Regions from separate parts of the Homo sapiens genome. Here region 1 is linked to region 2. A link means that fine-mapping ties the variant in region 2 to the expression of a gene that starts in the linked region. Tissue or cell type: esophagus mucosa. Region 2 holds a variant in brackets; the other region holds the start of a gene. All regions are shown on one strand. Distances are from middle to middle.

What was found. PIP is the estimated chance that this variant, and not a neighbour inherited with it, causes the effect.
Region 1: PTPN18 starts here. The variant in region 2 is fine-mapped to the expression of PTPN18 in esophagus mucosa (GTEx, PIP 0.98).

The regions. Positions count from the first base shown.
Region 1 is chr2:130,352,558-130,360,661 of GRCh38, forward strand. PTPN18 (protein tyrosine phosphatase non-receptor type 18) reads left to right here and starts at 3,499. Exons shown (of 15, transcript NM_014369.4): 1 at 3,499-3,643; 2 at 6,310-6,418; 3 at 6,676-6,752; 4 at 6,840-6,935; 5 at 7,051-7,089. The coding sequence starts at 3,551. RefSeq lists silencers at 3,079-3,748, 3,889-3,938.
Region 2 is chr2:129,825,220-129,833,323 of GRCh38, forward strand. No RefSeq gene overlaps it. Among named protein-coding and RNA genes, the nearest start is that of LINC02572, 48 kb to the right of the region's middle. The variant T/TG (reference allele first, on the strand shown) is at 3,673.

The DNA of each region.
Region 1 (8,104 bases), 530 kb after region 2:
ATGGGAAAATGTTTTCAAATTTATGCCCCCCCTTCCACTTTTGTTTTAACTTAGAGGAGGGAGTAAGGAGGTGGGCGTGGCAATATCAGAAAGGGAAACTAGCAGTGTAATAATAATATTAATAGTACCAAGTGTATACTGCAAGCCAAGTGCTGTTCTATCTAAATGCTTTATATACAATGATTTCCTTAAATTCTCACAATAAAGCAACAAGAAGAGACACAGTCCTACAGAGGAGGAAATTGAGACATAGAAATTAAATGACTTGCCCAAGGTCATACTGAGAAAGTCATGGTGCCAGAATTCTAACTCAAACATTTTGGTTCCAGTCTTCTGCCCTTTTTTTATTTTTATTTATTGATTTTTTTTTTTTGAGGCGGAGTCTTGCTCTGTCGCCCAGGCTGGAGTGCAGTGGCACAATCTCGGCTCACTGCAAGCTCCGCCTCCCGGGTTCAAGCCATTCTCCTGCCTCAGCCTCCCGAGCAGCTGGGACTACAGGTGCCCGCCACCACGCCCGGCTAATTTTTTGTACTTTTAATAGAGAACGGGGTTTCACTGTGTTAGCCAGGATGGTCTCTGCCCTTTTTTAACTAAGCAAAAAAGGAAGCTGGAGAAGAACTGTACCCTGGAGATGCCAGCAGTCTCCAAGGAGCTCCCCGCAAGCATCCCAGAGGAAGGGGTGTCTGCCAGGGGTCTCCACTGTAGTTTCTCTTTTCCCCTTTGCAGGCTCAGAGCAGGCTGAACTCACAGCCTTGTGCACCTGTCCCTGTGCATCTTCCTCTACCTTGTCCTCTTGGCTCTGTTGAGCGGCCCATGTAGCCACACTGACTGGTGGGCAGGTGACAGACTGGCACATGGCACGTGGGCTTTGGTACACTTGGGGTCTCTGTAGCAGTGCCAGCAGCTCCCACTGTGCAAGACTGCTGCTGGCAGCGTGAACAGGAGGGCCACCAGCAGCAGTGAGTCTCATTGCAAGAACACAGCTGGCAGTCCTCCGGGAGAGAAAAGCCGGGGTGGGCCAGGGCCTCTGGAAGATGTGGGGTCTTCCCATCCCCCACACCTAGCCTGAGCTGAACAGAGGGCAAGCTAAGAGTTTGGATGTTTGGAGAGACATGAGGAACGGTCAGGTGTCAGGAGGACAGGTGGGTTAAACAACAAGGTGGGGCTTGGAGTGAGGGTGAACACGAGGACAGAAAGACACTCAAGGCAGCTGGAAGTACAAATGGCAGACTACAGCCTCAGCCACTTAATGTTCACAGGCCACAAGGCAGCATCTGGCTAGTCACTCAGATCCTCTAATAGACAAACCACCAAACACACACACACACACACACACACACACACACCCTGGCTGGACAGACTTCCAGATGGACAGAATCCCAGGGAAACACCCAGCTGGACAAACAGACAGATTACTGACAGATGGGTAGACCCTCAGCCAGACATCCAAATAGGCCTGTGGCCAGAGAGACACCTGGGCCCCCCAGCCAGGCAAAGGTCAGAATCCCTCAAGGACAGGTGCCCTCCCCAAAATGGACAGAGACATTACCCCAGAGGAGAGAACACCCCACCCACCTAGTCAACCAGACCTTCAGCTGGACGACATGCCCTCCACCAGTCAGACAGACCTCAGCCTATGAGGACAGGCCCTCAACAGGATCCCTGCTGCTGGACAGAGATCCTCTAGCCCATAAAGACTGCCCTGAATAACCATGTGTGCTCAGGGGCTCACATTTTCCCAGAAAATGTCTTTATTTTCTGAAAGCTTACTGATGCTTCTGTATTCTACCTCCCTGGATCTCCATGGCCATCCACAAACCCTCAATGATTATACTGAGAGTCACTATCATGCACTGAGCAGAGCTCTCAATGACTTCCCAGACTCTTCGGACCCTTCAATTACTAACACTCCAAATCCCAATGGCCCCACAATTACTTTCACTTCTTGTCCCAAGTATCCACTGGCCTCCCAATGACTGTCATTAATATCTACTGACACCCCCCCCCCCATGAACATCCAAGGGACCCCGACTGGCTTCCAATGAATTCCCTATCACCACCATCCTAAACAATTACCTCCCTGAGAATGCTCAAAGATGAAACTGATAAATGATGAACATGAATCTCACAGTGACCCCTGCGGACCCCACGATAAATCAAACAGCCCTAGCTGCTGATCCCCACAGAGCCACTTTGATCGCTCCATCACTTCAGCCAAGGTCAGCAAACGACAGCCTGTAGGCCACACACACACACTAGAATAATTCATGACACATGAACATTACATGAAATTCTGATTTCTTTGTCCATAAATGGTTTCTTTGGGACACAGCCACACTATATTGTCTGCTTTCATGCTGCCACAGCTGAGTTAAGCAGCTGGGGCAGCGATAGCAAAGCCAAAACCACTTCCTACCGGGACCTTTAAGAAAGTGTGCCCTTAAATACTCTGATAGCCCCTAGTGAATTAAATTGACCACCTGACATCATGCCCCTGTTGACCCTTCAGAGACTCAGGCACACATCCAGGCCCCAATGCTACCTTTCAACCCCTCAACGACCTCAAACTGGTGTCCACTGACGCCCCTTCCAGTGACACCCCTCTTAATTCTTCCGACCTCGGCGAGAAGGGGGCTAACCTAGGCCTGTCCTTGAAGAGACCCAGGTGCCAGTCCATTCTCTCCAGCCTCCCCTCGGTGATCCCGGAAGCTGGAACGGCGGCTCTCCTCTGACCTCTGCACACTTTCTGAAGATGGGAGTGTCAGGGCAGGCAAAAAAGAGAAGCTCTTCGTTCCCCAGAACCCACTTCCAGTGCCTCAGTTCTGTTTCCCAGCAGGCTTGTGCAGGTCGAGATGCTCACACAGGACTGACCCTGGTGCCCCAGCGCATCCGGGAAAAAGGAACCACAAATTCCTCGGGAAATACACAGAGAAGATCCCGCTGCCACTTGGCCTTTCCCACGGCGTGGCTGCCCCTCCCCGGCCTCCCTTGGGCCCGGCTGGAGCGCACAGCGCGGGACGCCCCCGACCCGGGGTCCTCTGGCACGAGGGGCAGCCTGATCTCGGCGACCGTCTCCACCCAAGGCTGCTGCCCGCCCCAGCTCGGACTCCGCGCGGCCTGGCTCCCAGGGGACGGGCGGGAGGGCCCGGCGAGACCGCTCGGCCGTCCACCCAGAGCCGGCACCCGGAGGTCGGCCCCTGGGCGCGGATCCCGATCTGAGGGCGGGTCCCAAGCGGCAGGGAGCGAACCTGGGACCGTGCCACCCCCCCACCAGTGGGCGCGGCAGCCGAAAAAAAGGGGAAGCGCCGGCGCTGGACTCTGCTCAGGGCAGCCCGCGAGGACCTAGGGCTCCGGCCACAGCGGCCCGAGCGCCCGGGGTGGGGCTACGCGGGCTCAGAACACGGTGGCTGGGGCGCCCTGCCCGCCGCTGCGCGCTTCCATTGGCTGCCGAGGCAAGGGCGGGGACTCAGTCACCGGCCTCCGCCTCCCGCGGCGTCCACACTCGCCGCGCGCGCGGCGGCCGGGCTGGACCTTGCTGGCCCGCGGCGCCATGAGCCGCAGCCTGGACTCGGCGCGGAGCTTCCTGGAGCGGCTGGAAGCGCGGGGCGGCCGGGAGGGGGCAGTCCTCGCCGGCGAGTTCAGCGTGAGTGGCACACGGGGTCCGCGAGCGGCGCGCCCCGGCCCTGGCCCTGCGTACGCCTGTCCTCCGCGCACGGCGGGCTCTGCCTTTCTGTCTCGGTGTCCCCGGTGTCTCCCCGCCTCGGGGGGTCTCTCCGTGTTTCTCTCCCCAGCACTTCTCTGTCGCTCTTGCTGTCTCCGTCTTCACTCTCTGCCCCCCGGCCCCGGAGCGCGACGTCCACGGCCAGGCCGGGACGGACCGTGCACACCCTCGTTCCCGGTGTCCTCGTCGCGCTCCCGGAACAACCTGGCTGCGGGCGGGACAGGTGGGGCGGGCGCCGCAGGGGAGGGCGGGCGGCCCTGCTGCGCTGGACAGCCCCGGCCCCGCCGCTTCTGGCGACCTGACTGTCCCCTGTGACCACAGGAAGGAAGGGGCTGCAGCAGGGCGAAGAGGAACACGGAGGCTGTGGCGTGGTGAGGGTGTGAACGCCGGGCTCGAATCCGCGTCCGGGCCCGAATCCGCTTCCCGTCCCGAATCCGCGTCCCGGCCATCCGCGTGTGGTCCAGGCGGTCTACCTGGCCCCTCTGACCTCGGCTTCTCCCTTGGTGAAATGGGGACATGAATGACCAAACTGGTCTAAGGATTAAATGATGTGGGTGAAAAGCACTTAGTACATATTGGGCGCACACTTCGTAGGGGCGTTCGTCACTGCCTATAAAGATTCTAAACGTGGGCCAGGTGCGGTGGCTCACACCTGTAATCCCAGCACTTTGGGAGGCCGAGGTGGGAGGATCGCTTGAGCTCAGGAGTTCGAGACCAGCCTGGGCAACACAGCGAAACCCCGTCTCTACTAAAAATACAAAAATCAACTGGGCATGGGCGCATGCCTGTAATCCCAGCTACTAGGGAGCAGAGACAGGGGACTCGCTTGAACCTGGGAGGCAGAGGTTGCAGTGAGCTGAGATGGTTCCACTGCACAGCTGAGATGGTGCCACTGCACTCCAGCCTGGGCCACAGAGTGAGATCCCATCTCAAACAAAACAAAACCAAACAAAAAATCTAAACGTTACAATACAGGTAGTGCAAGCCCAGCATTAGGAAGGCTCACGCAGAATGCTAGGCACTGTACATTACAGTTGATGACGTGTTTAAAGTGTAATCGCTTATGTACCAGACATAGAAACATACCATACAAACGCATAAACTGATATATGGTGACATGTATCAAGTTTAGAAATATGACAAATATATAAAAGTATTATAAATGACCGTTTATACAATAAACATTGCATAACTGCATAAAACAATACAACAAATGAATATAACAAAGATTATAATTTATAAAATGACCAAAGTTATTTGATAAATTCATAAGTAGATATAAAATATGTAACAGATGGCCGGGCACGGTGGCTCACGCCTATAATCCCAGCACTTTGGGAGGCCGAGGCGGGCGGATCACGAGGTCAGGAGATCCACACCATCCTGGCTAACACGGTGAAACCCCGTCTCTACTAAACACACAAAAAATTAGCTGGGCGTGGTGGCGGGCGCCTGTAGTCCCAGCTACTCGGGTGGCTGAGGCAGGAGAATGGCGTGAACCCGGGAGGCGGAGCTTGCAGTGAGCCGAGATCGCGCCACTGCAGTCCAGCCTGGGCAACAGAGCGAGACTCCATCTCAAAAAAAAAAAAAAAAAAAGTAACAGATAATTATAAACCTAAGTAATTTACACACATGTAGAAACATTGTATATAAGAAACTAAGAAATGCATAATAAATGTAAAATATATAATTATACAATATAAGAATGTGTGTAACAAATGTAAACATAATACCCATGTGATATATGACATCATGCGACTGGGTGGGTTCTGAACCGTGTACAGTGCGGAGGGCCTCACATGCGGAAGGCTGGGTGGCGAGGGCACCCCTGCTCCCCAAGCCTGCCTCCCGCATGTGCAGGAATCACTGCGCTCTTCTAGGTGTTCCCACTACACAAGGGCATCATGAGGGCTTAAATGACCCAATGGACACAAGTAAAGCACTTAGAATAGTGGCTGGCACACAGTGGTGGCATGGGTGTTACTTATTATCATTGAGATTACGAATACCTGACGATGATGGTAATACACGATTCACTAATTATTATTATAATCTCCCAGTAACACAGTGCCTATAGTATCTTGTACATAATATGTTATCCATTATAATGCCTATGCATTCATTGTACATTGTCTTATATGTTTAGCTACATAGCCCATAATATATTTCATTACAGTTATTGCTTACAAGACAATGTCACAGATTGAGTGTGCAGGGGGTGGGTGCCGAGAGGGTCTGAGTTCAACCCTCACCGTGTGACTTCCTGGTTGGGACCTTCCACAAGTCGCTGAACCACGTGGTGCATAAACTTTCCCGCCTGCACAATGGGGACGTCAATAATAGTACCCACGTCGTAGGAACCTGTGATGATTACATGCCCTTAGCACAGAGAGTGGCACAGAGAAGGTGCCCTGGGTCACTATTTCGGTATCATTATTATTAGGCAGGCCCAGTGCCATCAGGGTCTGCACTCACCTCCCCAGGCCACTGGCTTTGTATCCTGCAAGCGTGCCTAGGTGGCCTGGGACTCTGACCTGGCTCCTCTCCTGTCTTCTCCCCTCCCTGACCCACTCATAATGCTCTACCAGGACATCCAGGCCTGCTCGGCCGCCTGGAAGGCTGACGGCGTGTGCTCCACCGTGGCCGGCAGTCGGCCAGAGAACGTGAGGAAGAACCGCTACAAAGACGTGCTGCCTTGTAAGTCGGGGCTTCCGTAGGGAGTCGGTGCAGCCTTGCACGCCCTGCCACGTCCAGGCGTCAGTGTGCACTGGAGTCACCCACTGTGCTCTCCTCCCAGAGCCTCACCCTCTGCACTGCTCAGCAGCCCACAAGGGCACCTTGGTGGGATCTCTGCATGTGTGTGGTCCCCTGCTGGCTTTCAGCTAGGGGGCTGTCAGAGGCTCCGTCACCCTATCCTACCCAAACTCCACGTTTCTCACCTTATCTGCTGACAGATGATCAGACGCGAGTAATCCTCTCCCTGCTCCAGGAAGAGGGACACAGCGACTACATTAATGGCAACTTCATCCGGGTGAGGGTTGGGGTCACGGAAGGAGGTGGACTGGGAGTGGCCAGGGGTGGGCCGCAGAATCTCAGTCGTGAATTCGGCCTTCACCAGGGCGTGGATGGAAGCCTGGCCTACATTGCCACGCAAGGACCCTTGCCTCACACCCTGCTAGACTTCTGGAGACTGGTCTGGGAGTTTGGGGTCAAGGTCAGCACTTGGGGGTGCGGCACAATGGTGGGGTCAACATCTAAGTACCCCCTCGGCAGTTTCCCTGGCCCCCTCACCCAAATCACCTTCCTCTCCCCTGACCCTCCTTGTCTAGGTGATCCTGATGGCCTGTCGAGAGATAGAGAATGGGCGGGTAGGTGCCCTCTGCCCCCAGGTTTCATGTCCTTGTGGGAGGAGGGAGGAGGGATCTTGCTAGCTCCTCCTTGACCCCAGGACCCGAGGGTCCAGCTCTTGGAGTGACCTTATTGTAGCTCTGTGGGAAGCCCCATTGTTCCTCTAAGTTTTTGTTGATATGTTATTCATCCCCCAGTGTTGGCAACCCCTCTCCTGCTGGGCTTCCCAGCCATTTCACACCTTAGACCATAAGGCCCTATTCTGACTGCTTCCCCTGTAGGCTCTGATCTCTCTTTCCACCTCTCTTCCCTTTATTCACTCCACTCTAACAACTCTGGTCTCTGCTGTTCCCATGTTCCAGGGATGGCTCTGCCTCAGGGTCTGTGCCTTGGCTATTCCTTCAGCCTAGGACATCCTTCCCTGTGGCTTGCTCTATCACCTCCTTCAGGTCTTTGCTCAAATGGTAATTCCTCAATGAGACCTTCCGGGGTGGGTCTTCACACCATTTTAAACTCTCAGCACTTCCATTCTCCCTCCCTTGTCCTACTTTTCCTTCTTTCTTCACAGTTCTTATGAACTCCTAACACACTGGATAATCTACAAATGTATTATGTACATTGTTTATGCTTAATCTCCCTGATTTAGAAGGTAAGATCCACAAGGCCAGGGATTTTTGTTTTGCCTGTTAACATAAATTAGTTACTAAATAAATAAATGCATGTCAATATTGAAGGCTGAAGGCACATAGCTTCATGTGGTTTCTACATTCTTGCCTACTCCATGGATGGGGTAGGGGTTCCCTGGGGTGACTAGCTGATGGTGGAGGCTGTATGATCTGTAGTCTTGTCTCTTTCTCATTCCTGATTTTGGTAATTTGTGTTCTCTCTCTCTCTCTGTCTCATCTCTCTATTTCGCTATCTCTTTTTTCATGCTCCTGCCTGTTTTTTGTAAACAGTGTATTAGAACACAGCCACACTCATTTATTTACATATTGTGTATGCCTGCTTTTATGCTACAGTGGCAGAGTTGAGTAG
Region 2 (8,104 bases):
TAGACTGATAGACTGAAAAACTGTTAAGATGACTAAAAGTCCATAAACACGTGTGCATTATATAAAATATAAACTTATTTGTTATGTACGTGTACAGACACATACTTAGTTTATGATAAAGCTGGCACTTCAGACCAGTGGGTGAAGCATAGATTGTCCTGTAAATGATGGTATTGGGAAAACTGGCTAACCGCTGGAATGAATAAAGACAAAGCCATACATCACAGCATGTACCCAAATGAATTCTAGAAGGAATTAAGGTTTATGTATAAAAAATGAAAACATGAGCATGGGAAGAGATTACATAGGTGAATATTTGACTTACTCTGTGGCAGGGTGAGTTTTTCTAGCACAGTGTCAAAGTCATAAAAACATGGTATGATTTAAGTACGTAAAAATTAAAAGAAAATTTTGTTTCAAAAAAGTGGCTGGAGGGGGGAGGAAACAAGAGGGGTGCTGGAGGCTGCAGTCAGGGTCATGAGCAACGTGTCCACTAGCATCCTTCATTCCTGGGCCTGCCATGCTGGTGGAAAGGGCTCCAGATTGCCGTTTGGGAAGCCCCACTCTGGTCCATGAAAAGGCCCATGTAAAAGACCCAGGACAGCCTGGCATCTGAAAGGCCCCGACTGTAGGGGTGGTGTTAAAGATACTGCCTCACAGGTATCGGAGGAACCCAGGCCACAGGGCTGCCATCCATCAGTGTTACTTCAAGTAATTCTTTGGACACATGAGGAGGAAATGACCTCCAACACCAGCATGAGGCAGGCACACGCGTCTGTCCGTCCCCGTGGGCAGCTCGCAGGCTGTGTTAGGAGCACCTTCAGGGCCGACCTCAGCTGGCCACCGCCACTCGCCCCCGCAGTCGGTCATCCCAAGCTTTTCTCCCAACACTGTGACAAAAGTTGGGCTCAATGTTAGAAGGATGAGGCCTGCAGTAAGGGAGGGCCACAGGCTGTTTAACGAATACAGCAGGACTGCCAGCTAGGAGGAGGAAGTTCTCATGTCCTATAGTGCCATAGGGGATTATAATTAACAACAATTTGTCATGTATTTTCAAGTAGCTGGAAGAGTGGACTTCTAATGTTCCCAAAAGAAAGAAGTGATACATGTTTTTAGTGATGGATATGCTAACTACCCTGATTTGATCATTACACATTGTACAGATGTATTGAAATATCACACTGTACCCTATAAATATGTACAATTATCATGTGCCAATTAAAAATACAAAAAGAATGAAATTGGTCGGGTGCAGTGGCTCACACCTGTAATCCCAGCACTTCGGGAAGCTGAGGCGGGCAGATCCCCTGAGGAAAGGGTTCGAGACCAGTCTGGCCAACATGGCAAAACCCTGTCTCTACTAAAAATACCACAATTAGCCAGGTGTGGTGGTGGGTGCCTATAATCCCAGCTACTAGGGAGGCAAAGGCAGGAGAATAGCTTGAACCCAGGAGGCCGAGGTCGCATTGAGCCGAGATCACACCATTGCACTCCAGCCTGATCAATAAGAGACTCCATCTCAAAAAAAAAAAAAAAAAAAAATGAAATCATGTCCTTTGCAGCAACATGGATGCAACTGGAAGCCATTATCCTACATGGATTAATGCAGGAGCAGAAAACCAAATACTGTATGTTATCACTTATAAGTGAGTGCTAAACATGAGCACACATGAGCACAGGAGAGGAACAACTGACACCGGGACCTACATGAGGGTCGGGGCTGGGAGAAGCAAGAGGATCAAAAAACTACCTATGAGGTACTATGTTCACCACCTGCATGAGGAAATCATCTGTACACCAAACCCCAGAGACATGCAATTTACCCATGTAAGGAACCTGCACAGGTACCCCTGAACCTAAAATAAAAGTGGAAGAAAAAAAATAGAGTTGACATTATTTAAAAATATATAATAATATTTAGAGCAGAAAAAGAAAAAGATTAGGCCTGTAGAAATGATTTAATTCGAAAATGTCTCTGTATTCTAATCCGGTGGGCTTGGATTTGTTTCTGTCCACTTTTCTGCTGTGCCTGTCACAAAAGCCCTGCACCTTAAGCACGAGCTGGGGCCTCGGAGCGTGGGGCTTGCTCTGGCCTCCTGAACCCCACTGGTGTAGCCAGAAGCCCTGGGCTCAGCCCCCACTGCTGCGTGCTGGGCGCAGTGTGTCTTGGGCCGGACCCTGGCCTGTGCTGTCATGGTAAGTGCGGGAGGTGCGGGAGGGGCAGGAGGTGCGGGAGCGTGGGCGGGCGGGGCCGGCTGAAGGGGGCCCCCACTCTGAGAGCCACCAGCACAGCAGTGAAGTAGGGGGATGAGGAACAGGGCTGAGCTCCATGGCGGTCAGGGACACTCCCCAGGACGGGGCCTGAGAATCAAAGGAGGATTCCCCGCCCACAGCCAGCAGAGGAGCACTCCCAGGAGCAAACCACCGGCAAACGTGCTGGGGCGCCCCCGGGTTGGGCTCAGGCCGGGAGAGGCAGAGGGTGCGCGGTGCAGGCAGGGCCCTGCTGGGTCAGAGGCCAGGCCAGATCCCGCACAGAAGCAGGCGTGGCTCAGCACCTTGAAGCCGAGAGGCTTTGTGATCCGATTTACATTTTCCAAAGGTGACTTTGTCAGGTGCCTGGAAGTGGATTAGGGCAGGCCATGGATTAGGGCAGGCCCTGAGGACAGAGCGCTGAGGGTCTGCTGCCTCCAGGCAGGGAGAAATGAGGAGGCCTCAAACCACAGGCAGAGAGAACAAAGCTCCCACCCCCATCTGTGTGGCAGATGAAAGAATCTGCCTCCGACTGCAATCAAAAAGCAGCACCAGATAGTATGTAATAAAACATATTTGTAGGCAACGTGAACTTAAATGAAAAGTAAGGGAATCCTCAGAAACAAAAGCAGTCACTGAAAATTGAATGGACAGCCTGTGACATGAAGCCCTGCGCCTAGGGCCAGGAGCAGCAGAAGTGGGGGACGGTGGCCCTCTGGTAGCCCAGAAGATTGGGTTTCTACAAACAGGAATGGATGGGGCAGATTGAGAGGATGGGATAGAGAGGAGCTGAGAACTGCTGCGTGAAGTTAGGACTCTCCAGGGGCCATTGCCTCAGAAAACAAAAGACCAATAACTGGAAAAATATTTACCTGCACGTATCAAATGACAACATGAAATTTTGTTATCTTGGCCTAAACATTTCCCTGACAATTTCTAATCGTTTCCCTGCTTTTATGCAGGTTTGAACTTGAAATTTATACTATTTAAGCCAAGAAGTTAACCTTAAACTGTCCCCAAAATATTATATTCCTGGAAACCAACACAGAAACAAGGGCTAATTTCTCTGGACAAATACACCATCAACCGAGGCTTTTCAGAATCCCTGTGGCAGGCGGAACTCTCAGATGCCCCCGGGATTCTGGTCCCTGTGTGTGTTCACACCTTCTCCTAGTTAGGCACTCATCTGCATGCTGCGCTGAAGAGACTTTTCAGATGTAACCAATGTCCCTATTCAGCTGAGTTCAGAAAAAGGCTATCCTAGGTAGAACCCCTAATCCGGTGATCCCTTATTAAGGAATAGGGTTCTTCCCGGAAGAAGGGATTTGAAAAGAAAGAGACTCCGTGGCTGAGAAATTATCCATTGTTGGTGTTGAAGGAGGAGAGAGCCATCAGCCAGCCAGCTGGGCAGCCTGCAGATGC[T/TG]GGGGGGCCTCCAGCTGGCAGGCAGTGAAGAGGCAGGGACCTCAGCCCTGCAACCAGGACTGCCGGGCAACCTGAATGAGCTTCAGAGCATATTCTTCCCCAGAGCCTGCAGACACAAACTCAGCCAGCACCCTGATTTCAGCCTGGCGAGACTGAGCAGAGAGCGCAGACGCATTACATCATCATCCCTCTCGCCTACAGAGCAGCACACTGATGGACACACTGTTCCAGCCTCTACGTTTGTGGTCATTTGTTATGCACCAATACACATTTTGTTACCTAAAAGTGGGGTGTACTGTAACAAATACCTAAAAATGTGGCTGTGCCAGTGGAAGCTGACAGCAGGCAGAGGCATTCTTCTAAGAATGTTGAGGAGCGTGGCAGAAAAAGCCTGAAGTGCAGTGGACAGACTATTAGTAGAAATCTGTACTTGGAGGATCCTAGTGGTGAGACCTCAGAAGAAGAGGAGGGACATGTCATTGGAAACTGAAAGAAGGGGAATCTTTACTGTTTATTGGCAGAAACTTAGCAAATTGTGCCCTGCAGTTAGGCAGAAAGCAGAAGGTATACATGACTGACTTGAATAAATTGCTAAGGAGATTTCCCAGCAAAGTGTTGAAGATGTGGCTGAGTTCATTGTTGCTGCTTATAGTAAAATGTGAGAGGAGGGAGATAACTTGAGAAAAGCACTATTAAACAAAAAGCAACCAGGACTGGATGATTTGGGGAATTGTCAGCCCATCCATATAGCTACGGACAATAAAATTAGGAGATTGCTTTCAAAGGCATGGCAGAGAAAAGAAGGTGAGGGCGTGACTGTACAACCTTTTGCTAAAACCTCAGAAGGATCAATGAGTCAGAGAATTCAGTCGTACAAAGGGCTCTTTCAAGAGATAGCATATGTGCCTCACAGGTCTTCTCAACCAAACCAGAGGACCACAGCCCTGTAGCATCTGGTCCTCAGCTGCATCAGCAAGAGCCAAATATAGCAAAGAGATTATCTCAAAAAGATCTGTGCTGCAGTAAACTTACAAGTGCTGATATTTCTTTGACACACTGATTTCATTTCCTTTGGTTTATATTGCCAAGAGTGGAATTGCTGGATCATATGGTAATTCTATTTTTATTTTTTGAGGAATCTCCATACTGCTTTCCACAGTGGCTGTACCAATTTACATTCCCACCAAGAGTGTACAAGGGTTCCCATTTCTCTACACCCCTTGACTTGTTTTCTTATGTCTTTCTGATAACAGCCATTCTAAATGGAATGAGGTGGTATCTCATTATGGTTTTGATTTGCATTTCCCTGATGAATGTTGAGCATTTTTTCCTAGACCTGTTGGCCATAACATGTCTTTTCATTAAAGGTAGCAGCATTTGCAACTTCCTAGACATGTCTTCCAAGATATGGAATCAACCCAAGTGTCAGCAGACAAATGGATAAAGAAAATGTCGTATATATACACAATGGAGTACTAATCAGCCATGCAAAGGATGGAATCCTGTCATTTGCAACAACCTGGATGAACCCAGAGGACACCATCTTAAGTGAAATAAGCCAAACACAGAAACACAAATAAATACCACATGATTTCACTCATGTGGAATCTTAAAAAAAAAAAAAAGTTGACATCACAGAAGCAGAGGTAGAACACTGGTTACCAGAGACGGGATAAGCAGGGTAGAAGGGAGGATGAGGAGAGTTTATTCAATGGGCACAAAGTTACAATTATGTAGGAGGAGTAAGTTCTATTGCACTGTGGAGTGATGAGGATTGACAGTACAGTACTGTGTATTATAAAATAGCTAGAAGAGAGAATTTTGAATGTTCTCACCACAGAGCAATGATAAATGCATGAGGTGATGGATATGTTAACTACCCTAATTTGATCAGTATACAATATATGTTTATCAAAACATCAGACTGTACCCCATAAATATGTACAATTGCAATAAAATAGTGACCACTAAAAGGAGATCTGTGGGCATGGCTTTTGCTTAATGGTCTGAATCCCAGTGTAATTCATGCAAACCCCACAAGGTTCTTGACTAAAATTGGGAAGAAATACTGCCAGCTTGGACTAAAAGGAACAGAGAGACTCTGAAATTAAAAAGACAGTCAGACCCTTAGGATTCCAGCAGCAGGAAGCGGGTTGATGAAACTTCAGCTGCAAATGCTCCTACCTTTAATGAAAAGGAAGAATGACTCAGAGCTCAGAGAACAGAACCAACAAGAGCCCAGAGGGTGAGCAAGATAACTGAGGAGCAAGGAAGGATAATTCCCAGGCATGGAAACCTAATCAAGGGTCTCTGGCTGGAAGTCATCCAGCTAGATTTCAAAACTGCTTTGGAGCAGTGACTCCTTTCTGTTTCACCTTCCATTTTCCTCCTTTTTAAACTGGAACATCTATAACTGTCACTCTATGTCTGTCCCACCGTCATATACTGGGAGTGTTGGGGAGATCACCTCTCTCTTGGATAGAGAGGAAATGTGTCTCAAAAAATTAACCCAGAAGCCTCATCCAAATCTGGGCCTGATTTACCTGATGAGATTTTAAACTTGGAATGATGTCTGAATGGGATTAGATTCTAGGGAATGTTTGGAAGGGCTATAAATCATTGGGGTCCAGGCCAGGCACAGTGGCTCATGCCTGTAATCCTAGCACTTAGGGAGGCCAAGGCAGGTGGCTCACTTGAGGTCAGGAGTTCAAGACTAGCCTGGCCAACATGGCAAAACCCCATCTCTACTAAAAATACAAAAATTAGCCAGACATGGCAGTGCACATCTGTAATTCCAGCTACTCGGGAGGCTAAGGCAAGATAATTGCTTGAACCAGAGAGGCAGAGGTTGCAGTGAGCCAAGACTGTGCTACTGCACTCCAACCTGGGTGACAGAGTGAGACTCTGTCTCAAAAAAAAAATTATTGAAATGTGGTAGGCAGAATTCAAAGATGGCCCTCAAGATTCACATCCCCTGATGTACACACCTTGCATGATTCCCTCCCTATGAGTGTGAACAGAACCTGTGAGTATTACGGAATACCACCCCATGATTATGTGTCATTATATGGCAAATTGGGTTTTGCCAATGTAGCTAAGAAGTCTAATCAGTTGACTTTGAGTCAGTCAAAAGAAAGATTTTCCTGTGGGCCTAATCTAATAACAAGAGCACAATACAGCTGGTTCAGAGACAGAGAAAATCAGAGATTCTAAATAGCAGAGACATTTCTGCTGTCCTTGAAAGAGAAACTCCCATGTTGTGGAGGGGGCAATAGGGAAGGAAAAGGCAGGCAACTTCTAGGGGCTGAGAGTAGTCCCAGTAAACATGGAGAAACCCTGCCTCTACTAAAAATACAAAATTAGCCTGGCGTGATAGCACATACCTGTAATCCCAGCTGCTCAGGAGGCTGAGGCAGAAGAATTGCTTGAACCTGGGAGGTGGAGGTTGCAGTGAGCAGAGATTGTGCCATTCCACTCCAGCCTGGGCAACAAAAGCAAAGCTCCGTCTCAAAAAAAAAAAAAAAGAAAGAAAATTGGGAAAATAGAGTTTTATCTCACTCCTTATACAAGAATCAACTCAAAATAAAGACTTAATTTTAAGACCTGAAACAATAAAACTAAATGCCAATACACCTAATAACAAAATTTCAAAATACGTGGTGCCAAAACTGATAGAATTCCAAGGAGAGATAGACAATCCACCATTGTAGTCAGAGATTTTAATGCCCCACTCTTAATAATTGATAGAACACAGAGACAGAAAATCAGTAAGGTATTTGGGAGATTTTCACACACTATCAACCAACCTGACCTAAAAGATGTTTATAGAGCACTTCACACAATGAGAGCTGAATGCAGTTTTTTAGTGTACACAGGACACTTACTAAGATAAAAAACATATTCTGGACTATTAAACAAGTATACAAAAAGCAGGACTGATGAGCAAATTCAGTGGAGTTGCAGGATACAATACCAACTTGCAAAAATCAATAGCACTTCTCTACACTAACAACAAATGCCTGTAATCCCAGCACTTTGGGAGGCCAAGGCGGGTGGATCATGAGGTCAGGAGATTAAGACCATCCTGGCTAACACGGTGAAACCCAGTCTCTACTAAAAATACAAAAAAAAAGGCTCTCCCTCCTCCCCCCCCCCCCCACAGTCTCCCTCTGATGTCGAGCCGAGTCTGGACTGTACTGCCGCGATCTCGGCTCACTGCAACCTCCCTGCCTGATTCTCCTGCCTCAGCCTGCCGAGTGCCTGGGATTGCAGGCGCGTGCCGCCAGGCTTGACTGGTTTGTGTATTTTTTGGTGGAGATGGGGTTTCGCCGTGTTGGCCGGGCTGGTCTCCAGCTCCTGACCACGAGTGATCTGCCCGCCTGGGCCTCCCGAGGTGCCGGGATTGCAGACGGAGTCTCGCTCACTCAGTGCT